Homo sapiens: one gene and its partners. The protein of the gene in region 3 interacts with the protein of the main gene of each other region in a pairwise test. Each region holds a gene or a part of one and is shown on either strand. Other genes may lie near its edges.

Region 1 (6,310 bases), on a different chromosome or scaffold from region 3:
GTGAGGAAGCGATGGCTGCAGCCGAACGAGAAGGTCAGGAAGAACGTGGTGCCCAGCTGGCTTAGCCTCACCTTTCAAAGGTTCCCTAAGCAAATTTCTTCTCAAAACAGAAAGCATGAGTTTTGTGGGATGCTTTGTACAATCAGACCATTTCTAAGCCATCTGTTGGTATCCCTTTGTTCCCTTCCTAGTAGGTACCACAAGAGTGGATCTAACTGGACAAGAGTCTAAAATGCTGCTCATGTGATTGAGACTTGGGCACCTGATCTGAGAGGGAGGATGGATAATAAAAATTAAATAATTAACTCCAAGGTGAAATTTACAATGTTCTGGGATCCTGCACAGTTCGAGGTCCCAGAGGGAATTGGAGTAGATCTGCATGTTGAATGTTTTATTGCCTGAGGGTTATCCATGCTTTGAGTGAGGTGCACATTTGTTTTCAGTCTCTGGAGTTAAAGATCCTTTGGCGGCTGAACATGTGTGGGTTCCAGCAATGTCTTTTTGTGGCCAGCAGTTAGCTTAGAAAGGTTTTGTATCTGAAATTTTAATCTCCTATTGGCTTTGTTCAATGGCTAGGGAACAAAAATGTTCCTATGGCAAGGAACATGTTCTAAGCTCAGCCTAAGGCACAAAATGGCACGACTTTCTTTCAAGATCTGTTTTGATTTCTTTACACCTTATCTGCCCAAAAACATCCTCTGAAGCCTCTCTAACCCAGGGATCCTCCTCACTCTTCCCCTACCCATTCCCCCCACCCTCCGTTATACTGGGGCCAGTTATCTAGTAGATACTGCCAATTACCCTTGGCAGAGGTGCCCTGCTCACTAATTTCATTTGAAGGAGAGCCCTGGAACCTGGTTTTAATGTCTGGCACACGCCACTCCAGGATCTCCCAGTTTGTGTTTCTACATCTGCAGGCTGATGCTGATTTCTAACCACCCCATGTCAATCATTTTAGTTTGTGGGCATCACCTATGCCCTGACCGTTGTGTGGCTCCTGGTGTTTGCCTGCTCTGCTGTGCCTGTGTACATTTACTTCAACACCTGGACCACCTGCCAGTCTATTGCCTTCCCCAGCAAGACCTCTGCCAGTATAGGCAGTCTCTGTGCTGATGCCAGAATGTATGGTGAGTTAGGGTACGGGTGCTTTGGCTCTCCTACCCACTATGGAAGCACTATATATTTGGTTATTTTCTTAGTGTAAGGAGGGTGGTGATTATGAGAAAAATATAAGATGATGAATGATTGGGTCTTAGTTTATTAATCCTTCCCTACTGAAACCAGAGAGGTTTCTTCCCCGGGAAGGGAACTTGGAAGTGGTGGGAGTTTTCTTGGCCATTCACATTGGCCTACTCTAGTTGACTGCTGTTCACAACCCCAAAGCAGCACATTTCAATAACAAACACAAGGTTTCACCACTGTTCAATACCACCTTCTCTTTTTTGTAAACCTGTAGAAAAGAGGATCCTGATTGTTGGTAGAATCCAACTTTACAGCCAGGATAATTAGAGATGGAAGAAGGGCTCTGGGGGAAAGTCTCCATGTGGCCCCGTAACTCCATAAAGCTTACCCTGCTTGCTTTTTGTGTCTTACTTAGGTGTTCTCCCATGGAATGCTTTCCCTGGCAAGGTTTGTGGCTCCAACCTTCTGTCCATCTGCAAAACAGCTGAGGTGAGTGGGTTATTTGGGTTATTTTACAAGGGAGTAGCTAATACCATACAAATTACACCCATGGCCTTCAATTTTAAGGACTGAAAGTTTCCCTTTGCTGGATTTTGAATTAGCCGATTGCCTTCTACAACATGTTGGCTAAGTGTGCCTGAGCCAATGAGCATAGAAGGTAAAACACCTGTTTTCTCTAGAGTTGCATAGAAAGACTTCCTTTCCAACCCTTCCCCTCTTAAAAGAGAAGTTTGTAGCTTTAGGTAAAGATAGAGCCTAATGGCAAAATCCCCCACATGAAAATTTTCATTCCTTTAGTTAAAAACCATATCAAGAAAATGGGCTGTGCACAGAGGCATTCATAGGTTTTATGAAAACATTTTCAATTTGGAACTTCTTTATCTCAAATGAGAGGTAAAATAAGTACATTTGAAAGGGAAAGCACTGTATTGAGAACAGATATTATATACAAATGAGGCAGGGGAATAAAAGTAAATCCGGGGGAGACAGGCAGTAAATTATTTCTTTGACAGCAAAATGTTGACTTTAAATTTTGGGCCCCTGGGCACAACTGTAGGGAACCAGTTAATTATTTTGGAGTACTGTACTATTTCATGACTATTCTGTGATCTGGGTGTTAATGGGCCAGGTGCTATGGTGTACACTGAAGACTGGGAGGCCCACATTTAGGGAAGTGAAAACTTAGTTAGAGATGTGGAATTAGCACACAAGAAAGATATCAACACATTCAGAAAGCTGTATTCATGATTTACAGTGGAGCATATTACTGCTGTTGCAAGAAACAGTTCTTCCTCTTTCATTTTCCTGCAGTTCCAAATGACCTTCCACCTGTTTATTGCTGCATTTGTGGGGGCTGCAGCTACACTGGTTTCCCTGGTGAGTTGACTTTGAATGATCTTGGCAAGTAAATAGGCCTGAGATAGTGTGGGTACAGCTATTCTGAAAGGCAAGAAGGTAGACTGCTTCCATCCTTGAAATGCTGGAGGGAAGCTTCTGGGAAGATAGCAAAGGGTGGAGGCTCCGTACTTCTACTTGCATTGGCAAGGCAGAAAGACATCACAAATTAGATGGGAACAAGAAAAGTGGTATGAGGAAAGAGGTAAGAGATTCATAGACACGAATGATAATATTTAGTATTTATAGAACATGTAATGTTGCCAAGTACTTTGCAGTCATAAATTACGGTTAATTCTCAATACATTTTGATCAGATCAGTGACAAAACACTGAAACATCACGAAACATGACTTGCTATAGCCTGGAATTCTATATACTATCAATATGAATCCACTTTGGATACTCTCCAGTGGATTTAGTTACTCATATGGAAATACTGGGAGGACCTCCTAACATTATTAGAATTGTTATGATTATAATACAATGCTATGTCCCAGGTCTTGCTGATAGTGCTACAGTGCCCTGTGAATGTAGTGTGCTCATTGTGCAGATTAAAAACCTAAGGCACTGAAGGGTGAAGTGATTTATCTGAAGTTATTTTATAAGCAGTGATCAGACAAGATGAGCTCACAGAACTCCTGGCCCCTACTGCTGAGGTTTCCATACAGAGTCAAGTAATTTCTCACCTTGTAAAACGAATTGATTCATTAACCAGGGGAGAGCTCTACTGCATGATGTGGCTGTGTGTCTACAGCAAGCACCCTATGACTCTAAGTCACTCGGACATATTGATGTGGCAAAGCCCAAATATTGTTCACTTCCCTGAGGAAAACTCAGTGCTAGATCAAACAGAGGTGTGGAATAAATCTTTATGATTTGATTCTCTGGGCCTGGGCCATGAGACCCATGATGCCTCAGAGACATCGGACTTCCAGTCAAGTGTATATGGAGAAAGCCAAGCCTGGGATGTACTGCTTTTTGCAGAGCATGGGTTTTTCCCTTATTTAGTTATGATTTTATTTCTACCCTTCCTCATTCCCAAAGGGATTTGAGGAGGGAGTGCTTTCTTTTCTACTCTCATTCACATTCTCTCTTCTGTTCCCTACAGCTCACCTTCATGATTGCTGCCACTTACAACTTTGCCGTCCTTAAACTCATGGGCCGAGGCACCAAGTTCTGATCCCCCGTAGAAATCCCCCTTTCTCTAATAGCGAGGCTCTAACCACACAGCCTACAATGCTGCGTCTCCCATCTTAACTCTTTGCCTTTGCCACCAACTGGCCCTCTTCTTACTTGATGAGTGTAACAAGAAAGGAGAGTCTTGCAGTGATTAAGGTCTCTCTTTGGACTCTCCCCTCTTATGTACCTCTTTTAGTCATTTTGCTTCATAGCTGGTTCCTGCTAGAAATGGGAAATGCCTAAGAAGATGACTTCCCAACTGCAAGTCACAAAGGAATGGAGGCTCTAATTGAATTTTCAAGCATCTCCTGAGGATCAGAAAGTAATTTCTTCTCAAAGGGTACTTCCACTGATGGAAACAAAGTGGAAGGAAAGATGCTCAGGTACAGAGAAGGAATGTCTTTGGTCCTCTTGCCATCTATAGGGGCCAAATATATTCTCTTTGGTGTACAAAATGGAATTCATTCTGGTCTCTCTATTACCACTGAAGATAGAAGAAAAAAGAATGTCAGAAAAACAATAAGAGCGTTTGCCCAAATCTGCCTATTGCAGCTGGGAGAAGGGGGTCAAAGCAAGGATCTTTCACCCACAGAAAGAGAGCACTGACCCCGATGGCGATGGACTACTGAAGCCCTAACTCAGCCAACCTTACTTACAGCATAAGGGAGCGTAGAATCTGTGTAGACGAAGGGGGCATCTGGCCTTACACCTCGTTAGGGAAGAGAAACAGGGTGTTGTCAGCATCTTCTCACTCCCTTCTCCTTGATAACAGCTACCATGACAACCCTGTGGTTTCCAAGGAGCTGAGAATAGAAGGAAACTAGCTTACATGAGAACAGACTGGCCTGAGGAGCAGCAGTTGCTGGTGGCTAATGGTGTAACCTGAGATGGCCCTCTGGTAGACACAGGATAGATAACTCTTTGGATAGCATGTCTTTTTTTCTGTTAATTAGTTGTGTACTCTGGCCTCTGTCATATCTTCACAATGGTGCTCATTTCATGGGGTATTATCCATTCAGTCATCGTAGGTGATTTGAAGGTCTTGATTTGTTTTAGAATGATGCACATTTCATGTATTCCAGTTTGTTTATTACTTATTTGGGGTTGCATCAGAAATGTCTGGAGAATAATTCTTTGATTATGACTGTTTTTTAAACTAGGAAAATTGGACATTAAGCATCACAAATGATATTAAAAATTGGCTAGTTGAATCTATTGGGATTTTCTACAAGTATTCTGCCTTTGCAGAAACAGATTTGGTGAATTTGAATCTCAATTTGAGTAATCTGATCGTTCTTTCTAGCTAATGGAAAATGATTTTACTTAGCAATGTTATCTTGGTGTGTTAAGAGTTAGGTTTAACATAAAGGTTATTTTCTCCTGATATAGATCACATAACAGAATGCACCAGTCATCAGCTATTCAGTTGGTAAGCTTCCAGGAAAAAGGACAGGCAGAAAGAGTTTGAGACCTGAATAGCTCCCAGATTTCAGTCTTTTCCTGTTTTTGTTAACTTTGGGTTAAAAAAAAAAAAAGTCTGATTGGTTTTAATTGAAGGAAAGATTTGTACTACAGTTCTTTTGTTGTAAAGAGTTGTGTTGTTCTTTTCCCCCAAAGTGGTTTCAGCAATATTTAAGGAGATGTAAGAGCTTTACAAAAAGACACTTGATACTTGTTTTCAAACCAGTATACAAGATAAGCTTCCAGGCTGCATAGAAGGAGGAGAGGGAAAATGTTTTGTAAGAAACCAATCAAGATAAAGGACAGTGAAGTAATCCGTACCTTGTGTTTTGTTTTGATTTAATAACATAACAAATAACCAACCCTTCCCTGAAAACCTCACATGCATACATACACATATATACACACACAAAGAGAGTTAATCAACTGAAAGTGTTTCCTTCATTTCTGATATAGAATTGCAATTTTAACACACATAAAGGATAAACTTTTAGAAACTTATCTTACAAAGTGTATTTTATAAAATTAAAGAAAATAAAATTAAGAATGTTCTCAATCAAACATCGTGTCCTTTGAGTGAATTGTTCTATTTGACTTCACAATAGAAACTTAATAATCGTACCTTGTTCAAGGAGATCATTCATTTTTCAGCTCATCCAAGTCATTCTCATAACATTTCTCTGAAATAAATAGTATATGAATAGATTACTTCTACTTTTATAGTTGAAGACACTAAGAAATAGAAGCAAAGTAATTTGCCCAAAGAAATCCAGTAAGTACATGTCTGAGCTTGTGTTAAAACGCAGATATTGAAACCAATTTATTGCCTACTTAAAGGTTTCTTTTCTCTTCGAAGTTGGGTTTCAGAATGTTCAGAGTCAACTATGGTTACTTTTTCAATACCTTAGTGGTGCCCCAGTCCCCGGTGCATTTAGATTTAAGTTATTGTTACCTTCTCTTTAAATTGTTTGGATATTCCAGTAATGATCCCTTAGTAATTCATACGTGACTAATATTTAGTTTTATTTGGATAGTACTGGATGGAAGGTTTAGTACTTAAAGGACAGAGCAGGTATGGAAAGGGCAACGTA
Region 2 (7,030 bases), on a different chromosome or scaffold from region 3:
ATTGGTGTATGTATCTGCTTTTATGCCAATATCATGCTGTTTTGGTTACTACAGCTTTGTAGTTTTGAAATCTTTAAATTTTTGAAATTTTGAAATTTTCTAGTTTTGAAATTTTGAAATCTTGTAGTGTGATACCTCCAGCTTTGTTCTTTTTTGCTTGGGATTGCTTTGACCATTCAGGCTATTTTTAGTTCCATATGAATTTTAAGATTGTTTCCTCTAATTCTGTGAAGAATTACATTGATATTTTGATAGAGCCAGGTTTGAATCTGTAGATTTCTTTGGGTAGTATAATCATTTTAGCAATATTAATTCATCTGATGAGTAAGGAATGTCTTTCCATTTGTTTGTATCCTCTTCAGTTTATTTCCTCAGTGTTTTGTAGTTTTTCTTATTAAGGCTTGTCACCTCCTTGGTTAAATTTATTCCTAGGTATACTTCATTCTCTTATAGCTATTGTAAATGTGATTGCCTTCCTGATTTATTTTCAGCTAATTCATTGTGTGTAGAAATGCTACTGATTTTTGTATATTGATTTTGCATCCTGCAAATTTACTAAATTCATTTATCAGTTCTGAGAGTTTTATTGTTAGAGTCTTTAGGTTTTTGTTTTGTTTTGTTTTGTTTTGTTTTGTTTTTGAGATGGAATTTCACCATGTTGGCCAAGCTGGTCTTGATCTCCTGGCCTCAAGCAATCTGCCCACTTTGGCCTCCTAAAGTGCTGGAATTACAGGCATGAGCCACCACGCCTGGCCAAGTCTTTAGGTTTTTGTATGTTATTTGCAGAGACAATTTGACTTCCGCCTTTCCAGTTTGGATGGTTTTTATTTCTTTCTCTTGCCTAATTGCTCTGGCTAGGACTTTCAGTACTATGTAAAATAAGAGTCATAACAGTGGACATCCAGTTCCTAGAGGAAAAGATTTCAGCTTTTCTCCATTCAGTATGATGTTAGCCATGGGTTTGTCATATATGGCCTTTTTTGTGTTGAGGTACTTTCCTTCTATACCTAATTTATTGAGAGTTTCTATCATGAAACAATATTGAATTTTAACACATGCTTTTTATTCTGCAACTATTTAGGTGATCATACGGTTTATGTCCTTCATTCTGTTGACATATGTATAACATTTATTGATTTGCATATGTTGAATCATTCTTGCCTTTCTGGGATTAATCCCACTTTATCATGGTATGTTATCTTTTTGATGTATTGTTGGATTTGATTTGCTACTATTTTGTTGAATATTTTTGCATCTATGTTCATCAGGGATATTGGCCTCTAGTTTTCTTTTTTTATTGTCTCCTTTCTGATTTTGGTGTCATGGTTATGCTGGCCTTGTAGAATGAGTTAGGAAGAGTTGCCTCCACTTCAATTTTTTGGAATAGTTTGAGAAGAGTTGGCATAATTTTTTTTTCTTTAAAGGTTCAGTAAAGTTCAGCACTGAAGCCATCCAGCCCTGGAATTTTCTTTGTTGGGGGGCCTTTTATTATTCATTCAATCTCATTACTTGTTGTTTGTCTGCTGAAGTTTTCTATACCTTCTTGATTCAATCTCGGTAGATTATATGTGTCCAGGAACTTATCCATTTCTTCTAGACTTTCAAATTTGTTGGCATATTGTTCATAGTAGTGTCTAAGATCCTGTGTATTTCTGTGGTAACCATTGTGACATCTTCTTTTTTATTTATGATTTTATTAATTTTTATGTCTTCTGTCTCTTTCTTAGTTTAGCTAATGATTGTCAATTTTATTTATTTTTCCAAAAAGCGAACTTGTTCATTGATTTTTTTTTAATTTCATTTATTTCTGCTCTGATCTTTATGATTTCTTTCATTGTGCTGATTTTGGATTTGGTTTGTTCTTGCTTTCTAGTTTCTTGAAATGCACAGTTAAATGGTTTACTTGAAATTTGTCTAATTGTTTGATGTAGGCATTTATTTCTCTCAAGTTGTCTCTTAAAACTGTTTTTGCTGTGTCCCATAGGTTTTGGTATATTTTATTTCTATTTTTATTTATTTTGAGAAATTTTTAAATATCATTCTTAATTTCTTCCTTCACTATTGGTCATTTAGAATCATTTTGTTTCATTTCTGTGTATTTGTATAGTTTGCATGTTTCCCTTGGTATTGATTTTTAGTTTTATTCAATTGTAGTCAAATAAGATACTTGATACATTTTGGTTTTTAAAAATTTTTGGCACTTGTTTTGTGTTCTAACATATGGTCGATCCTTGGGAATGTTGCACATGCTGATGAAACCATGTGTATTCTGCAGCTGTCGGTTGAAATGTTCTGTAAATATCTTAGGTTCATTTGGTATATGGTGCAGTTTAAATCCAACGTTTATTTGTTAATCTTGTCTAGATGATTTGTTCAATGCTGAGAGTGGGGCGTTGAAGTCCTCAACTATTATTGTATTGGAGTCTATCTCTCCCTTTATATCTAATAATATTTGCTTTACATATCTGGGTGCTCTGGTGTTGTGTGCATATGTATTTACAGTTGTTATATTATAGTGCTGAACTGACCCCTTTATAATAATATAATGTCCTTCTTTGTCTCTTTACAGCTTTTGACTTGTAGTCCGTTTTGTCTGAGATAAGTATAGCTATTCCTGCTTCCTTTCATTTCCACTTGGGTAGAATATCTTTTTCCATCTCTTCCTTTTCAGTCTATGTGTGTCTTCTAGGTGAGATAAGTTTCTTGTAAGCAGTATATAGCTGTGTTGGTAGAAGGGCTGAGGCAGGGCTTGCTTGTCTGACATAATGTAAAAGAGTCTTGGAACATGTCCTGGGTCCAGGGTCTCAAACCCCTCGTGGCCTATGGAACACCAAGCTCTGTGCCTAAGGGTGGAAGGCTGCCCTGCCACACTGCAATCTAAGCCCAGGGCATAAAACCCCTCGTGGCTTGGAAAGAATCCAGGGCTCTGGGCATAAAACCCCTCATAGCCTCTGGAATGTGTCCAGACTTGCTGGCCCCTTGCTCCTTGCTCTCCCAGGATCATAAATTGATTGTATCTTGAGTGAAAAGAACTTGTTCTCCATTATTTCAAGTAGCAGAGCATATGCTAAACCGTCACAGCTATGCTTGATGCACCGCTACCTTTCTACCCCAAAGTCCTCACGTTCTCACTTGTCTATCCCCACTTCTGCACGTCCTCACCACCTGCTTCTTTGTTTGATTACCAATAAATAGTGTGGGCTCCCAGAGCTCGGGGCCTTCACAGCCTCCATACTAGCGTCGGCCCCCTGGACTCACTTTATGTACTATTAACTTGTCTTGTCTCATTCCTTTGACTCCGCTGGACTTCGTGGCCCCCACGGCCTAGTGTTGGATCTGATCACCCCAACAAGCTGAGTCTAGATTTTCTTTTCATTCATTCAGGCAGTCCATATATTTTAAATGGGACAATTTAATCCATTTACATACACATTATTATTAATAGGTTATTTTCATTTCATTGATTGTTTTCTGATTGTTTTATATATTCCTGGTTCCTTACTTCCCCTCTTATTGTTTCTTTTTGTGGTTGGCTGATGTTTTTTTTTTTTTTGTAGTGATAAGATTTGATTCCTTTCTCTTTCTTCTTTGTGTATGGGCTGTCAGTGAGTTTTAAGTTCACGTGTTTTTGCCTTTTCACTTCCAGATGTAAGACTCCCTTGAGCATTTCTTTTCTTTTTCTTCTCTTATTTATTTTTATTATTTTTTTTTTGAGAAAGTGTCTCACTCTGTCGCCCAGGCAGGAGTGCAGTGGCATGATCACGGCTCACTATAGTCTCGACCTCCTGGGCTTAAGCAATCTTCCTGCCTTAACCTCCCAAGTAGCTGGGACTACAGGCATGTGCCACCACGCCCAGCTAATTTTTGTGTTTCTTGTAGAGGTAGGGTGTTGCCATTTGCCTAAGCTGGTCTCAAATTAAAGAGCTCAAGTGGTCCACCTGCCTGCCTTCACCTCCCAATGTGCTGGGATTATAGGCATGAGCCACACTGTGCCTGGCCCCTTGAGCATTTCTTGTAAGGCCAGTCTAAGAGTGATTAGAATTCCCTTAGTTTTTGCTTATCTATGAAATATTTTATTTCTCCTTCTTTTCTGAAAGATAGCTTTTCTGGGTATAGTATTTTTGACTGTTAAGTTTTTTATCTTTCAGTACTTTGAGTATGTCATCCCATTCTATCCTGGCCTATATAATGTTACTGCTGAGAAACTCACTGTTAGTCTAATAAGGATAATCCTATATGTGACTAGATACTTTTACCTTGCTGTTTTTACAATTCTTTACTTGACTTTTGACAATTTGGCATAATGAGCTTTGGAGAGGACTTGCTTGGGTTGAATATTTTGAGAGTACTTTGAGCTTCCTGGACCTGGATGTCCTTCTAGTTCCCAAGGCTTGGGAAGTTTTCACCTATTACTGGATTAAATATGTTTTCTACACCTTTTCCATTCTCTTCTCCTCCTGGAAATACCATAATGTGAATATTTGCTTGATTGTGTCCCATGAGTCCTGTAGGTTTCCTTCGTTCTATTTTATTCTCTTATTTTTACCTGCCTGTGTTATTTCAGAAGATCTGTCTTCAAGTTCAGAAATTATTTTTTCTTCTTGACCTAGCCTGTTGTTGAAGCTCTCGATTGCGGTTTTTTATTTCATTTATTGAGTTCTCAGCTGTAGGAGTTCTGCTTTGTTCTTTTATATAATATCTATCTCTCTGTTAAATTTCTCTTTCAAGTCATGAATTAAAACAATGGGACACAGGTGCCCAACTACTTGGCTGACCTGGGGGCATATCTGCTGGAGGTGCCAACATGGCTGTTTTGCAGGGCTGAGATGAAGCTGAATGACTCTTGGCTGGCCTAGGTGTGTTTTTGCCAGGAGTAGCACTCAGAGCTTTATCTAGGGTTTGGGATGTGAGTGTAAGACTGCTCAGCTGGCCTAGGGGGTGTACCAGCCAGTGGTAGCCCATGGGGCTGTTTCTCAGGCCTGGAATGCAAGCACATTCTGCCTGGGGTCATGTCTAAAAGGGTTGGCTCACAAGGCTGTTTCTCAGGCCCTAATTGTGGGAGAGTGGCCTTTGGGCAGGCCAGAGTCATGTCCACAGAAGGCGTCTGGGCACCGTAAGGCTGTTTCTCAGAGCCTGTGTGTGAGCACATAACCACTACCCCAGCCTGGGGATGTATCAACTCTTTGTTGGCTCAGAGGTCTCTCCCATTCAGGTGAGCATGCACAGTAGTTTGGCCAACTCAATTGTGTGTTCGCCCTGAGTGGGACTATAAGACCTTTCCTCCAGCTGGAAGTACGGGCAGCAGGGGTTGGTTTCTCTGCTGTTCAGGGCCAGAGTCCCAGCCAATCCTGGGCCCAGGCTCCATGCAGCTCTAATTGTGGTATTCAGCCACTACTGCAGGTTTAGTGGAATGAAGATGCACAATGATAAAGAGGTGCATGCCACTGGCCCCCAGAGGAGGGTGCACTCCAGAGATGGCTGTGGTCTCAAGATGGTTCTGTGTTGTAGCAGCTTGCCCGCAGGGGCTGGTTAGGGAGTTGGGAGTGCACACCAAATGCTCCATGCAGCTGTGTGAATTCCTGGCAGCTCTTCCAACTGTGCTCAGAGCTTGTGAGGACTGTAAGATTAACCTGTAGTAAGGAATGTAGGTATCTGCAGTGGCACTGGAGGTTGGTTGGATTCCTCTGCTTATCATTTCCCTACAAGGGGAAATCCTTCCTGTCTCTGGGACAAACCAATCTGGGCTGGGGAGATGGAGCTGCAAAGCCCGGGTGCCTCCATGCTGCCCTCCTGGGTTTCCAATTACCACAGGTAACTCTCCACTCCCTTGCTGCACTACACTACTCTCCCTTCGACACTCCACTCAAATCTTTGCTGTGGTTTATTCATTGCCTTGGTCCTTTCTTGTCTGGTGACACGGGGGAGGATGAGCTCCAGGCACCTCCGGTGAGCCATTTTGCTCCAATGGGGGCATTTTTTTTTAATAGGTTTTATTTTTCAGAGTAGTTTTTGTTTCACAGCAAAATTGAGTGGAATCTTCTAGTCGCTGATCATCTTGGGAGCATTTATAAATGAACCTTATTTTTCATGAAGAAATTGAGCAGAAGATACTAAGACTTCCCGTATGCCCTCTACCCTTACACATAGTTTCCCCGGCCATCAGCATCCCCCATCAGAGTGGTACATTTGTTACAGTCAATAAAACTACATTGACATATCATTGTCACCTGAAGCCCATAGTTTACATTAAAGTTCACTCTTGGTGTTGTACATTTTACAGGCTTTTTAAAAATGTATAATGACATGAATCCACCATGAGAGTATCATATAGAATAGTCACACTTCCCTAAAAATCTCTTTAGGGCATTTTTTTCTACTGTCCATACCTCAACCCTTAGCCCTGGCCTCTGTCCAAAGACCAGTGCTCTCTCCACTGCCCTATTCCAATTAATAATGGCATCTGGCACCTCAGTGGACAGTGAGCCCAGTGAGAGCAGGAACAGTTCCCTCAGTAGTGGTTATCAAACTGTTAACAATGATGCTCAGAGACACGCCCCTGACTCTGAGTGTTGGGACCTAGAAGGCACAGCCAGGCAGGTCCAGGAGAACTGTCTGGGTCTAAGAAGGTCTGAGAACCACCTCCCTGCCCCACCCTGCTTCCAGGCCCTTTTTAAGGCCAAAAGGACCACCTTTGACCCTAAGTGATGGGGCCAGTGGGAAGAAAGAAGAGACAAGGCCTATCAGCATTCCAGTGCTTTCTCTCTCTCTCATCCAAGAGGCTCAGAGCTTCACAGTCCTTCAGGGGCTATGTCTGAGGTTCATTTCAGAAAGACCCAGGGTGGAGAGGAACCTGAGTCCTAGGAGAGATGATGTTTTGTGCACCAGAGAGAGAGGGTGGGACAAGAGGTGTCAGGTGCACTGTGTACTTCATCTCATGGTCGTGGTCAATATTGATGTCTATGATGGGTGGGAAGATCTAGGAGCTAAACCCCATTTTGGAGGTGAAGTCACCCCTCTCTACATGCTGGAG
Region 3 (7,030 bases):
CGTGAGGTGAGTGAGGGATAATGAAATCTATTATAGAACAATGACTATTAATATATAACTAAGTTGGCCTTGAGCAGCACCCTCTTGGGGAATCCCTGAAGGAACTTTTTTTGCCTTTATGGGTGCTGAGTGCACATAGTGATTTCAGTTACTGAAATTTGTTCAATCTTTAGCATGAAAATTGTTCATTCTAAGTTATTCCTATTTAGGAATAGCTTTACAGACATAGTCATGGAGAGAAAGGCAAAGTGAAACAGTTCTCTATTGTTCCATAAATATCTAAGGGATTTTTTTGTCTTTGAGGCAGTGTCTCACTTTGTAACTCATATCGGAGTGCAGTGGCCTGACCACGGTTCACTGCAGTCTCGACCTCCTGGGCTCAAGCAATTCCCCCACTTCAGCCTCCTGAGTAGCTGGGACTATAGGCGCCTTCTACCAAGCCTGGCTAACTTTTTTTTTTTTTTTTTTTTTTGAGACGGAGTCTCACTCTGTTGCCCAGGCTGGAGTGCAGTGGTGCAATCTCGGCTCACTGCAAGCTCCGCCTCCCAGGTTCATGCCATTCTCCTGCCTCAGCTTCCCAAGCAGCTGGGACTACAGGCACCCACCACCACACCTGGCTAATTTTTTTTTGTATTTTTAGTTGAGATGGGGGTTTCACCGTGTTAGCCAGGATGGTCTCGATCTCCTGACCTTGTGATCTGCCCGCCTCGGCCTCCCAAAGTGCTGGGATTACAGGCGTGAGCCACCACGCCTGGCCCTTTTTAATTTGTTGTAGAGATGGGGCTTCCTGTATTGCTCAGGCTGGTCTCAAACTAGTGGCCTCAAGCGATCCTCCCACCTCAGCCTCTCAAAGTTCTGAGATTATAAGCTTGAGCCATCGTGCCTGTCCTAGGGATTATTGACAAGACAAAAAACGAAAGGTGTTCATCTTTTGTAAGAAACATAGACCTCATTCCTTGATACCTATGGAATTTTCATGTTAGGTTGGCTATCTTATGAATCCTAGTTTGAATGCCCAGATGCTTTTTACATCTTTTTTGAACCATTCCCAAGTTTTGTGCTATAGTACTTCTCTTTCAGGTGAAAAATATGGCACAGATACCAAGATGATAAGAAATATCTGAAGTTTCCAAGCCTGTGTTATGGCTTAGCATTTTCTAAAAGAGTGCTGTCCAGTAGAAATATGATGTGAGCAGCCATATATGTAATTTACATTTCTTAGTAGCCATATGAAAAAGTATAAAGAAACAAGTGAAATATTAATAATTTTATTTAACCCCTTATTTCCAAAATATTAATACTATCATTTCAACATATAATCAATATTTAAAAAAAAATTTTAAACTAGGCATGGTGGCTCAGGCCTGTAATCCCAGCACTTTGGGAGGCTGAGGTGGGAGAATCACTTGAGCCCAGGATTTTGAAACCAGCCTGAGCAACAAAATGAGATCCTGTCACACACACACAAAAAATTAGCTGGGCATGGTGGCACCCACCTGTGGTCCCAGCTGCAGGCTCGCACCACTGAACTCCAGCCTGGGTGACAGAACAAGACTCTATCTCAAACAGAAAACAAACTGAGATACTTTTACAATTTTTTTGTATGAAGTCTTTGAAATCCAGTATGTATTTTACATTAACAGCCCATCTGAATTCACGCTAGCCATGTTTCAGATGCTCAGTTACCACGTATGGCTAGTACAGGCGATGTCCCAAATCCAAAATCCGAAATGCTCCAAAATCCAAAACTTCCTGAGCACTGACTTGATGCTACAAGTGGGAATTTCCACACAAAAGTACTTAACACAAACTTCATTTCATGCACAAAAATTTTAAAAATATAAAATTGTCTTCCAGGCTATGTGTGTAAGGTGTATATGAAACAAATTTTGTGCTTAGACTTGTGTCCCACCCCAAGATCTCACTATGTATATGTAAATATTCCAAAGCCCGAAAAAATATCTGAAATCAGAAACGCTTCTGGTCCCAAGCATTTTGGATAAGGGATACCCAACCATTTCAGACAGCTTAGTTTTAAAGCAGCTGAAATGTTATGGTGATTCCATAACCAAGTTTGTGAAACATTTTTCTTTGTTGTGGGACTTTGGAAGCTTTAATATGCCAATTTTCATTGTGACTATAGTTGGTGAGGGTGGATGAGTAGCACTTTATAAACTGTTTAGGTGGTGTGGCCTTTTTAGCCCTAGCACAACGCCTTACTCAATTCTTAACTCCAGCTCCCTAGAGCATTCACTAGATACGTTTCTGCAGAATATACTTTGGGAAACATGGTTCAATGAATCGCCTTCCTCTGCTTTTCCCTCCCATCCTGCCCCCTAGGGTAAACTAAAACCTGAAAATGTCCTCCCCTCTTCTGCCCACAACTACCTTTAAAAGTTTTCTTTAGTACAAGCTTTAGTACACAGTTTGGACAGTCTTTCCCACTGTCTTGTGTTAGAAGAGCACTAAATTATTCTCAGGGCTTGCGAGTCAGTCTTGATCTCAACTTATTAGCTGGCTGTGGTATCATCTGAAGTCAGTTTCAGTCCATCTAGACTGGTGAAACTAGGAGGAGAGGGAGAGAATGGTTTTCTCGAGAAAGCAAAGCAGCATCCCATAGCTAGGGCAAATGGGAAAAGAAGGAACACTCTCCACTTGGTGCCATGTAGTGCAAACGAGTTTCTAAATCAGCCCACTCTGTGGGTGGTCACTGATCACAAAATAAGTGACTCATCCTCTAAGAAGGGTGGTGACAGTTCTTGCTCCTTTATTCCTTCTTGGATGTGATATATAAAGTCAATGATTTGGGGAGAAGGTACATACACTGAATTCCTCAGTAGATACCATAGTGAGAGGGAGGCCCTCTGTGGAGGGGGCAAGTGTAGTGGGCTCTGAGGCTCAGATCTTTGGTTCCAAAGACAAAAGTATCTTCCTTTATCCCCATCCCCCCAATAAAAAAAAAAAGAAGAAAACAAAGACGGTGAAAAGCAAGGGCTTTTTATGATTAGTGTTAGTCAAGCAATTCAAACTTGGAGCATTTGGCCTCTGCAAATAATCATGTAAGATTAGAGTTGCTACTTCATGCCATTTTTGTTGTCGCTTATTTAAGAACAAGGATCAGTAGGGATGGTAATAAAATAATTTTTAAAAATGCAAAGAAGAGAAAAAGAATAAAGCTATGATTAAGATAGCTGGGTCTGTGCCAGCAGCCCCTTCCTCTGTCTTAGAGCTACCAATGCTATTCTCTGAGGAGTGCAGGCTTTAGTTTATTTCCTCTAGATAGAGCTTCTAGGTGATCAAGCACAGCTATTTCTCTCAAAGGAGGGTTAGTCACCCAAAGGTGAAACAGTTCTCTCCTCTCCTCTCATTCAGCCTGCCAAAACAACTTTGCCTTTTTTTGTGTGTGCTAGAAAAGTAATTAAGAAAAATAAATGCCATCACTTTTTCTTTAGTACTCTAAGTTTTCTCTCTTCCACCCCTAGATCAGTGGACTGTAATCTCTGGGTGTGGGGCCTAGGCACTGGTATTTCTGGAAGGTCCTCAGGGGATGCTGGTGCATAGGAAGGGTTGAGATGCACTGGCCTTACTCTTGCTGTGTGTAAGCCCAGTCCAGGCTAATACCTCTCCATGGACCCCTTCTTTTAGCTGCCTCTTTGCTCTTCATAAATGTCGTTCTCCTTTCTGCTGTGTCCTCTCTTCTCTAAATATCTGAATTCTGCTCAGTCTGATTCCCTACTTTAGAACCTTCCCTGTAATCCAGTCTCTTCTCACTTTCCTTCTGTGAGCCTGGCTGTCAAAGATGTGCCCTGGCACTTACTCCTTGTGCTGTGAGGGACTTGTGTAGGTCTTGCCTCCTAACTATAGAATAAGCTCTTCTTTAATGGTAGGTGCCAGTTTCCTCATTTTTGTAGCCTTTTTAGCCCTAGGGACAATGACTTACCAAGTTCTTGATTTCATGTATATTAAGTTTTAAGCAAAGTGAGAATTTAGCGTTATCAAAAAGTAACCTACATTCTTGGGACATTCTGAGCTCACAGTAGAAGGCAGGGACTGTTTAGAAACCTGGATATGCTAGATATCAAAACAGGAAATGGTGCTTCAAGCTCTCATGCAATTAAAATCATTTTTCTCTTTTTCTTTCTGCTAAGTTGTATGTAGCAGAGGCCAGTAGTAAATAAAATATTGTATTAAAAAAAACTTAAACTGAGGTCTGGTCTCTCAGAAGCTGATGGTCTACTGAGTTTTCTCTGGATGTGATTTTTGCTGGTCTTTGGTAATATCCTTTGCTTACTGAATTGAGTCACTTTTTTCTTATAGTTGGCTCATAGGCTATGTATGGGTATAGTGACCATATTTTCTGAGTTGCTGAAGGGACATATGGGTGGATAAACCTCAGTGTCCCTGTGAGAATGGTGGAATGCATTTGAAATTGGAGCTGCCATAGAAATTGGGGCCAGGGTGTGAAGCCAGCTCAGCTCTCTCAGCTCTGAGGAGCCTGATCTCTCATTGGTAAGATTCCCCCTTAGACATGGTATAAATAGTGCAAATACCATATTAGCTGCCATTTACTGACCCTCTACTGAATGTCAGATACTCTCTTGTAGGGGCTTTCTATGTATTCTCTTCTAATCCTTATTACGACTTCACATGGTAGACATTGTACAAATATGAAAACTAAGGCTTAAAAGTTGTAACTTTTAAAATACAGGTCCACATGTAGCAGTGGAGGTCATGTGTTTGGGAGAGAATCGAGTGTAAAAGTTGTAAAGGGTGGGTGTGCCCAAATTCTCATAAATGCTTTCTCTTGCACATCCCGTGCTCTCGGCACTGTTCAAAGTCTGGTGTTGCTTTGGGAAGTCTCAGAGCAGTAGTACCTATGGGTCATAATTCGCGGCGTCCTAGAGTTAGCCAGTGAGACAGAATGTCTCCTTGCTTTCCACCTGTGTGGCTGCTATACCTCCGGTTGTCTCTAGTGACAGTGCAAGGGGAAGCTCCTGTACAGTCAGAGCCATGCTGCTCTGAGGGACCCATATTAAATCCCTGGACACAGGGCCTGAGGTTTCTTTATTCAGCTGGGCTCAAAATAAACCTTCTCCCACATTTTGCATCCTCTCGTTATGCTTTTTCCTGGCCCCTTAGGCTTCTGACTGGGCCACTTACACAGCTTTCATGGTGAGAAGTTGTGATTTGGAAGAAGAGAAGCAAAGTCATTTCTGAGAATCAAACTTTTATTTATGGTATTGGGACCCTTAAGTTTGCTTGAGAAATGCAGAACTTTGGAGGCAAAATTGTAGGATGTGGCTCAAGGGTCTGAATCACTCAGTCCAGGTAAACAATGGTAGGAAGTAGCACCCTTTGGGCATTTAATACCTGCTCAATGTGTTGCCTTGCTCTTTCCCCATCCCAGGAGAAGACAATCACTGTCTTCAGTGGCCTGAGGAACTCGTGGGTAGGGAGGGTAAGGGATGAGTATAAAATGGGATTGAGCCTTTTATAAAAGGAAGAACAAAGTGCCTGGAGGTATTGTTCCTAGACCAAACTGAGGGTCAGGCTGCTATTTCTGGTGGCCCAATAATGAGATGCAGTTGAGGAGCTGAATGTTAATAGGTAAGACAATGGGGAAAATGTCCCCAGGGAATTTCAGAGAGCTTCACAGCAGCCCCCACACTACAGGCCCTGAGGCCTGTCAAGGAAAAATGGTTTTGTGGATCAGGTCCTGGACTCCAGTGCCCTGTGTCACAGCTGCTCCAGCTCCAGCTGTGGCTAAAAGGGGCCAAGATATAGCTTGAGCTGTTGCTTAAGAGGGTCCAAGCCCCAAACCTTGGTGGCTTCCACGTGCTGTTGGGTCTGTGGGTGCACAGAAGGCAAGAGTTTGGGAGCCTCCGCCTAGATTTCAGAGGATGTATGGAAATGCTTGGATGTCCAGAAGTCTGCTGCAAGGGGGAGCCGTTATGGATTGCATTGTATGCCTGGAAAAGCCACAGACACTCAGCGCCAGCCTGTGAAAGCAGCTGTGGGGGCTGTACCCTGCAGAACCACAGGGCCATGTGGAGTTGCTCAAGGCCTTAGGAGCCCACTCCTTGCATTAGTGTGGCCTAGATGTGAAACATAGAGCCAAAGGAGGTTATTTTGGAGCTTTAAGACTTAATGACTGCCCTGCTGGGTTTTAGACTTGCATGGGGCCTGTAGCCCCTTCATTTTGGCTGATTTCTCCCTTTTGGAATGGGTCTGTTTACCCAATGCCTGTAACCCCCATTGTATCTTGGAAGTAACTAACTTGTTTTTGATTTTACAGGCTCATAGGTGGAAGGGACTTGCCTTGTCTCAGATGAGACTTTGGACTTGGACTTTTGAGTTAATGCTGGAATGAGTTAAGACTTCGGGGGGACTGTTGGGAAGGCATGATTGGTTTTGAAATGTGAGAAGGACATGAGGTTTCGGAGGGCCCAGGGGCTGAATGACATGGTTTGGCTGTGTCCTTACCCAAATCTCATGTCAAATTGTAATCTCCACATGTTGAGGGGCAGGGAGGGACGTGATCAGGTCATGGGGGCAGTTTCTAATGGTTTAGCACCATCCCCCAGTGCTGTCTCATGAACGAGTTCTCATGACATCAGATGGTTTAAATGCATGTGGCAGTTCCCCGCTCCCACACGCTTCCCCGCTCCCGCCCTCCCCATCTGTCCCCCCTTCCCCTCCTCTGTCTCTCTGTCACCTCCTCCCCCTCCTCTCTCTCTGTCCCCCCTCCCTCTCCTCTGTCTCTCTCTCTGTCCCCCCTCCCCCTCCTCTGTCTCTCTGTCCCCCTCCTGTTTCTCTCTCACTGTCCTCTCTCTCTGTCTCTCACTCTCTCACTGTCTCTCACGCTCTCACTGTCTCTTGCTCTCTCTCTCTCTCGCTCTCACTGTCTCTCTCTCACTGTCTCTCGCTCTCTCACTGTCTCTCGCTCTGTCTCGCTCTCACTGTCTCGCTCTGTCTCGCTCTCACTGTCTCGCTCTGTGTCTCGCTCTCACTGTGTCTCGCTCTCACTGTG
Region 4 (6,778 bases), on a different chromosome or scaffold from region 3:
AGCTTCATTGAGACAACGACCAAATTGCATTGGAGTAATGTTGGCAGTCAAGAGGAAGTGCCAATTTAGTGATTTCCTTAGCAGAACTGGCTGCATCTTTTACAAGAAAGCACATCTTCTTTGTCATCCTGAGGCTAGAGTGTGGAACAATTTGGCAGCTGTAGTATTTTATGTCATACAAAGTGTACAGATATCAGGCCACATACAGCACCTCTCACCCATCCATACTACCCACCTCACCAACTACAGGGCAGAGTCAGGCATTAAACTGAAAATAAATGTTATCTATTATATTGTAGTTTTTAAAAAAGTGAGTTTTTTAAAGTTTCTGCTATAAAACAAATCACAACTCACATGCCATTTCTGATAAAAGACAAGCACAGTTTTAAAATGTGCCCATGGCATCTGGGTTTGTGGACTAGAAGGCTAATCAGCCTCAATCATTGCACCAATGTTCTCCCAGGAATTTCCAAGACAGATTAAACTTTGCCAAGGACCATAGGTTTTGGACCTCTATTCATTTGTTTTATTTGCTTAATTTTATTACATGAAACTTTTTGTACAACACATTTGAGAACCCTGGGTTTAGAACAACTTAGACCCTAAGTTTTCGGTCTCAGTTTCCTTTTCCTTTGATAGATCTTTATTCACTGTATGAACAGAGTCACCAAAAAAAAAAAAAAAAATCAGTATTTTGTTTTGGTTTGGTGGGCTTTAGCTAAATAGCTCGAAGTGTTTCAGTGGTAATTGTCCTAAGTCTTTTGAATTATTCCTTTTGAAAGAGAGCAGATATTAGGGGGGAAAAATCAGTGTCTACCCTGAAAGCTTGTGGCACCAAATGACAGTGTGATTTACTGGAAGGTAGTCTAAAGGGGTGGGATGGGAAGGGACAGGAGAAGAAAAAAAAAAGAGAGATAGGGAGAGAAGGGGATGAAAGAGAGAGAGAGGTTGGGAGGAGACAGAGAGAGATTGATTTAACTTCTTAATGCTCTCTGTTAGTCTACCCACTTTGTTCCCATTGCTATCACCAAGTTCAGACAAGGAGAGTTAAGCTCAACTCAAAAAGAGCAGCCGTCTGCCTGGTTTCCCTCTGCCTCTAATTGTGCCTCCCTTGGTTCCATTCTTCACATGGCCACTAGAACGATGATCTCCATTGCAAAGGGCTAGTGAGGTCTATTCCCTGCCTCAATTCGTCATTGTTCACCACATCTGTGCTACCGCCACTTGGCTGAGAAGCATCCAAGGACCAAAGGATCCAAGCATACTTGATGAGTATCATTGACAAATTCAAGGATCCTAGAGGTGAGGGGTGGGGGTGGTGACCTTTGATTGCCCTGGAGTCTGTAGACTCAGCTCCCTGTGGGAAACCCGGCTCCCAGTAGACACCTTGACTCTCCACATTTCTCTCTGAAGGGACCTGGTGTCCTGCGAATAGTTGGACAGGGTGAGAACTTGGCCTCCAAGGAAGAAAGTTGGAGAGGAAATGCCCCTTGCTTTTGTTTCTTCCTGGCTCATCTCAAGGTCTTTAAGCAGATATGTGTTCTGCATCATCATTTACAACTGAAATTTTCCAGTTTATCTCATTTATAACTAAAAGGAAAGTAAGGTTCCCGCTGCAAGGTGTTAGCTAAATGCTCTGCCAGGAATATTTAGAACAACCAAATTATTGTCTGTCAATGGATCATCGTGGTTTTCCTAACTGTGTTCACTACATTAAAACATGTACTGCTTGAAACGTCCCACAAGAGAGTGGTCTTTTCCAAGGATGGCTGGTTCCCTCCCTCCACCCCTCCCACCCCTCACATCACGGAACACTTCTGCTCCGCTGTCTGCTTGATTTCAGTGAAGGTGGCCTGGGCTTTTTCTTTTATGGTATCCAAGTCCATGTTCTGGAGATTCTGTATCTGCCCAAGAATAGAATCTTTATCTTCTTCCTCTTCTTGATCTTCATCTACCATTTTCCGGAGATCTTCAGGTAAATCCACATCATCTCCAGCCATCTGGATTTGATTCTCATCCATTTCACTCTATGTGAAAAATAAATAGAGATAGATAAATAACTCTAAACTACTAACTCACTAACTAAATAAATTTTAAAAGCAGCAGGAAAAGGTCTTTAGAGAATACAGGAAGTGAGTGGCACTCTTGGCCTTGCAGCAGAGCCTGGTCCTGATGGCAGTTGTGGGGGCTTCTGTAGGGGGGTCCTTTCTTCATGGCACCTTGCGTCGATCAGAACCTTCCAGCATGGTGGTTCTCCAAGTGTGGTCTCTGGACAAGCAGCATTAGCATCATCTAGAGCCTGCTGGAACTACAAATTCTTGGGCCCCATCCCAGACCCACTGAATCAGGAACTCTGGAGATGGAGCCCAGCCATCTGGAATTTTTTTTTTTTTTTTGAGAGGGAGTCTTGCTCTGTTGCCCAGGCTGAAGTGCAGTATCTCGATCTCAGCTCACTGCAACCTCTGCCTCCTTGGTTCAAGCAATTCTCCTGCCTCAGTAAATCTCAGTAGCTGGGATTACAGGTGTGCACCACCACACTCAGCTGATTTTTTTGTATTTTTAGTAGAGACGGGGTTTCACCATGTTGGCCAGGCTGGTCTCGAACTCCTGACCTCAGGCGATCCAACCACCCCGGCCTCCCAAAGTGCTGAAATTACAGGTGTGAGCCACCACTCCCAACCCCATCTGGATTTTTAAGAATGTCTTTCTCTCTGTGATGCTGATACACACAAAAGCTGGGGCATCACACCCCAACTCTGCCTAAGGGCAGCTTTGCAAGTCTTGCAGATTCTATCAGCCCCATGCCAAGACCCACTCACCTGGTTGACCCCACTGTAGAGGATGAGGTCTCAGTTTATAGTAACTAGACAGTATGCATTAATTCACTCATCACACCTTAGTGGCAACTTTTTCTTAATCATGGCTCTTTTCCTCCCTTCCACTAGACAGGGAGCCCGTCATGGGCTCTTGTCAGATTCAACTTTCCACCGTTAGCACCTGGACTGGAGTCTAGCACACAGTACACATGTATTAAGTGAACCATCAAGGGCATGGCCGCCACTCAGCATACTGGCAGTCTAGCCTTCGGTGTTGCTGACGCTGTCACAAGCGCCTTGCACATTTCATTTTGTGATTTTAGGAGTGTCTGTTCTAGAATTTCTTAATGCATGCTGCCTGGTCTTTGAGATTCCTTTATTTTTTTTTTTTTTTAGACAGGGTCTCTCTCTTTCACCGAGGCTGGAGTGCAGTGGTGCAATCTGGGCTCATTGCAGCCTTGGCCTCCTGGGCTCAAGCAATCCTTCCACCTCAGCCTTCCAAGTAGCTGGGACTACAGGTATGCACCCCCATACTCAGCTGAGATTCTTTTACCACTTAGGCTATAGAGTCTCTTGTTCTGTAATGAGAGAGGAGTCTAAAGAAAAATATTCTCTGGGAAAGGTTAACAGTAGCTTACATCCCCAGATGGCTGCTGTCAGATTTTTTGGAGATCAGGTTGTAACATGAGGTGACCTGGGTTTCAGGGAAACAGAAGATTAAAAAGAGTGTCAGAAAAGCTAATGAGAGGAAAGATCTATGTTAGAGCCACCTGAATATGTTGTGACCAGCCTTAAATTTGTTACCAAAGCTCATGAAAAATCATATTAAAAAATGACGATCTTAGTCAAACAGACTACATTGCTTTAAGAAAGATTTCTGCACCTGGTGACTTCTGAGGTGGAGTTAAAGACAGCACCTAAAGAGAGATCTGAATTCTCCCTGTCTGGGTGCTATGTAGGAATGATCAGAAAGAAACATCAGTTGTCTCTAGGTCCAAACAGCACACCAGGTAACCTGGAAACTTCATTCTTCATCTGGAAAGTGGGTTGGAAGGACGAGATGGCTGAAGTCTTTTCCAGTTCTAACACTCTGTGGCTCCCATCCTTGGAGGGGCTGAAGCCCAGCTGCCTTTCCTCAGGGCTCTCTTCTTTGATTCGGTTCCCTGGGCAGAGTGACACAGGAGTCTGGCTCAAGAAATAGCTTGAGAAGCAGATTTCTGATGCAGCAGGAACCACTGATTTTGGGAAGGACAGTCTTCACCCAGGCCCTCCTTGGAGAGCCTGGAGGACAGTCCCACTCCGCGCCAGCCTCCGGAGATAAGTGAAGCCTCTCCCTGCTCTTGGCCAGGGCCTTGGGCCCTCCAAGTGCTTAACGGATTAATTAGTTCCTGGTCAAACTGTTGTGGGATTAATTAGTTAGTTAATCCTTAGGGGCTCCCAGCCAATTGTGCATTTCTATTTATTTTTTATTTGCCTTCCCTAGCGGCTGCTTTCCTTGCTGATCGTCTTCTGGGACTTTTTGCAGGAAGGAGAGGAAAAGCACAAGGTGGACGACTCATTCTCAGTTCATGCCAATGTGGGACATCTGCCCTCTCTTATGCATCCTGAAATCAAATGCAAGTAATCTGAAAAGACATTCCCGGGAATTCTGGCCCCTTCCCTCAGGTTGGTAGTAAGATCCCCAAGCATGTCACCAGGTTTGAACCTGGACAGGGTAACTGCTGTGGGCTTGCAGGGATGGGCAGCTAGAGGGGCTAGAGGAAAGCGTGTCAGCCAGCCAGGAGTATAAAACACCGAACACACTCATGAGGGCTCACGGGATGGTGCTCGCCTGCCTCCCATTCACAGGGAGACTTCAGCGAGGCCACCATCTATGGCTCTGCAGCGCTTGAAGAAGCTTTGGGATGGTTTCCTCCTTCAAGGGTGACTCTGAGGTTCGTTTTATCCTTGTGCTTCTTGCTCAGGGAAGGGAGAGCAGTGCAATTCTACGTTGCCTTATGGAGAGGATCTTGATTGCCCTAACTTTTATCAAAGTGGTTCTCAAAGTAGTTCTCAAAGTGGGTTCTCCAGGACAACAGCATCAACATCTTTTGGGACTTTGCTAGAGATGCACGTGCTGGGACCCTACTCAGACCCACTGAATCAGAAACTCAGGGCTCGGGCCTCGCAATCTGTGATTTAACAAGTCTTCCAGGTGATTCTGGGGCTTGCTGAAGTTTGAGAACCCCTGCTCTACATTTCTTGAAGACAAGGGCTGTAACTTACTCATCTTTCTGTCTCATAACCCAGCAAGGTTTCTGGCATGTAGACACAGACAATTATATGTTTACTGAATAGCCGGGCATGGTGGCTCAAGCCAGTAACCCCAGCTCTTTGGGAAGCTGAGGCGGGGGGATCACCTGAGGTCAGGGGTTCAAGACCAGCATGGCCAATTTGGTGAAACCCCGTCTCTACTAAAAATGCAAAAAATTAGCAGGGAGTGGTGGCACACACCTGTAATCCCAGCTACTAGGGAGGCTGAGGCAGGAGAATCACTTGAACCTGGGAGGCAGAGGTTGCCATAAGCCAAGATCACGCCACTGAACTCCAGCCCGGGCAAAAGAGAGAGACTCTGTCTTAACAAATAAATAAATATTTTTAAAAATTAAAATAAATGTTTACTGAATGATTCAATGAACCTATTGTCAGAGAGGATAACAGCCTTAGTAATACTCAAATTTGTAGGTCCTCTTTGCTGTAAAGAGCTCTGTTTTCGTAGCTATCGGTTTATCTTTATAATTCCATTGGGGCATCGCAGCCTAAATTGCCTGAGTGAGCACATTAGTTCTACCACTTATAGGATGGGTGACCTGGGGCACTTCGTATAGATGGCCTCTTTGAGCTTTATTTCCTTGTCTGTATATGGAGAATTGCATTATTTGCCTTAGAGCTGTGGAAGGTTAATTAGATGGTAACTGAATTATTTAGAATCTGTTAAGCACTCACCCAGTAGTAGCTATTCATAAAAATAATAACCTTCAGAGGTGGGCAGGGGAATTTGCTGTGGGCAGTCTTGCACATGGGGTTAGCTCTGTCAGGAGGCTGTGATGTCCTGGCACCTTACCTCTGACCTAGCAATGACTCCTACCTTCACCCAAAGGCTTGGTTTTTCTAACAAGCCAGGCTTAGTCATTTCCTCTTTAGCACTAGGCTCTCTATTCTAGGAGAAAGCTACCTAGCCAGCCCTAGCTCCCCTTACCTCTTGTCAGGCCCGCCCCTGACTTTTGTGGGTGGCAGAACATAAGTGCTGATAGAAGTTCCTGGCTCACAACCTGGCCCTCTTTTTTTTCCAGTTCCTGGTGCCAGCCCTCACTGGGAAGGGCCTTAGGACCTTGGGTGCATGGCCCCTACCCCACTCCTCAGGCCTAGTCTGCCTGGCCACTCTCAGGAGCACAGATCTGCATCGGAGGCCTGAGAATGCTCTGGAATGCACTTAGGCAGGGCGTTTGGGGTCCTAAGCAGCTTGAGCATAGTCTACAAGAGGGGTGTGGGCTCTGCCTGGGCTAGGCCCTTTGGCCCACAGACTCTTCACCCCGTGTGAAAGAGTGTGGCTAGAAGAGAGACCAAGAGAGCCCTCTAAAACATGGGCCCCAGGGCAGTGGCCTCAGATGTCCAGGTCCAAAGGCAGCAATGGGTGTACTCGATGGCTGTGGTCAGAGAGTCCTGCACTCACCATTGATCTAGAAGTACAAGGCTACTGGCCCTCCACCAGAGCATGGCTGCTTCTGGAGATGATTCTAGTCTTGAAGCCAATTACTCTGGGCTGCAGCCTGTGCCATGGACATCTTATGACTAAAGGTAGGACAACCAGACAAGGCCGTTGAGTGGCTAGAGGAGAAAATGATGCCCTCTGGAACCAAATGTGGGCCTGTAGCCTCATTAGCTCTGGATCCTAACTAATTGAGCTAGCCCTAGACCTAGAA

The links.
Region 1: the proteins of TMEM243 (region 3) and PLP1 interact in binary tests that used the Homo sapiens proteins (3 or more experiments, as listed by UniProt).
Region 2: the proteins of TMEM243 (region 3) and CD33 interact in binary tests that used the Homo sapiens proteins (3 or more experiments, as listed by UniProt).
Region 4: the proteins of TMEM243 (region 3) and CPLX4 interact in binary tests that used the Homo sapiens proteins (3 or more experiments, as listed by UniProt).

The regions. Positions count from the first base shown.
Region 1 is NC_000023.11:103,786,840-103,793,149, forward strand, and holds the end of PLP1 (myelin proteolipid protein), read left to right. Parts: intron 1-958; coding exon 959-1,127; intron 1,128-1,597; coding exon 1,598-1,671; intron 1,672-2,493; coding exon 2,494-2,559; intron 2,560-3,687; coding exon 3,688-3,759; 3' UTR 3,760-5,780; downstream 5,781-6,310.
Region 2 is NC_000019.10:51,228,065-51,235,094, forward strand, and holds part of CD33 (myeloid cell surface antigen CD33 isoform 1 precursor), read left to right. Parts: intron 1-7,030. UniProt on the Homo sapiens protein: Sialic-acid-binding immunoglobulin-like lectin (Siglec) that plays a role in mediating cell-cell interactions and in maintaining immune cells in a resting state.
Region 3 is NC_000007.14:87,209,716-87,216,745, reverse strand, and holds part of TMEM243 (transmembrane protein 243), read left to right. Parts: intron 1-7,030.
Region 4 is NC_000018.10:59,294,899-59,301,676, forward strand, and holds the end of CPLX4 (complexin-4), read right to left. Parts: intron 2,028-6,778; coding exon 1,800-2,027; 3' UTR 504-1,799; downstream 1-503.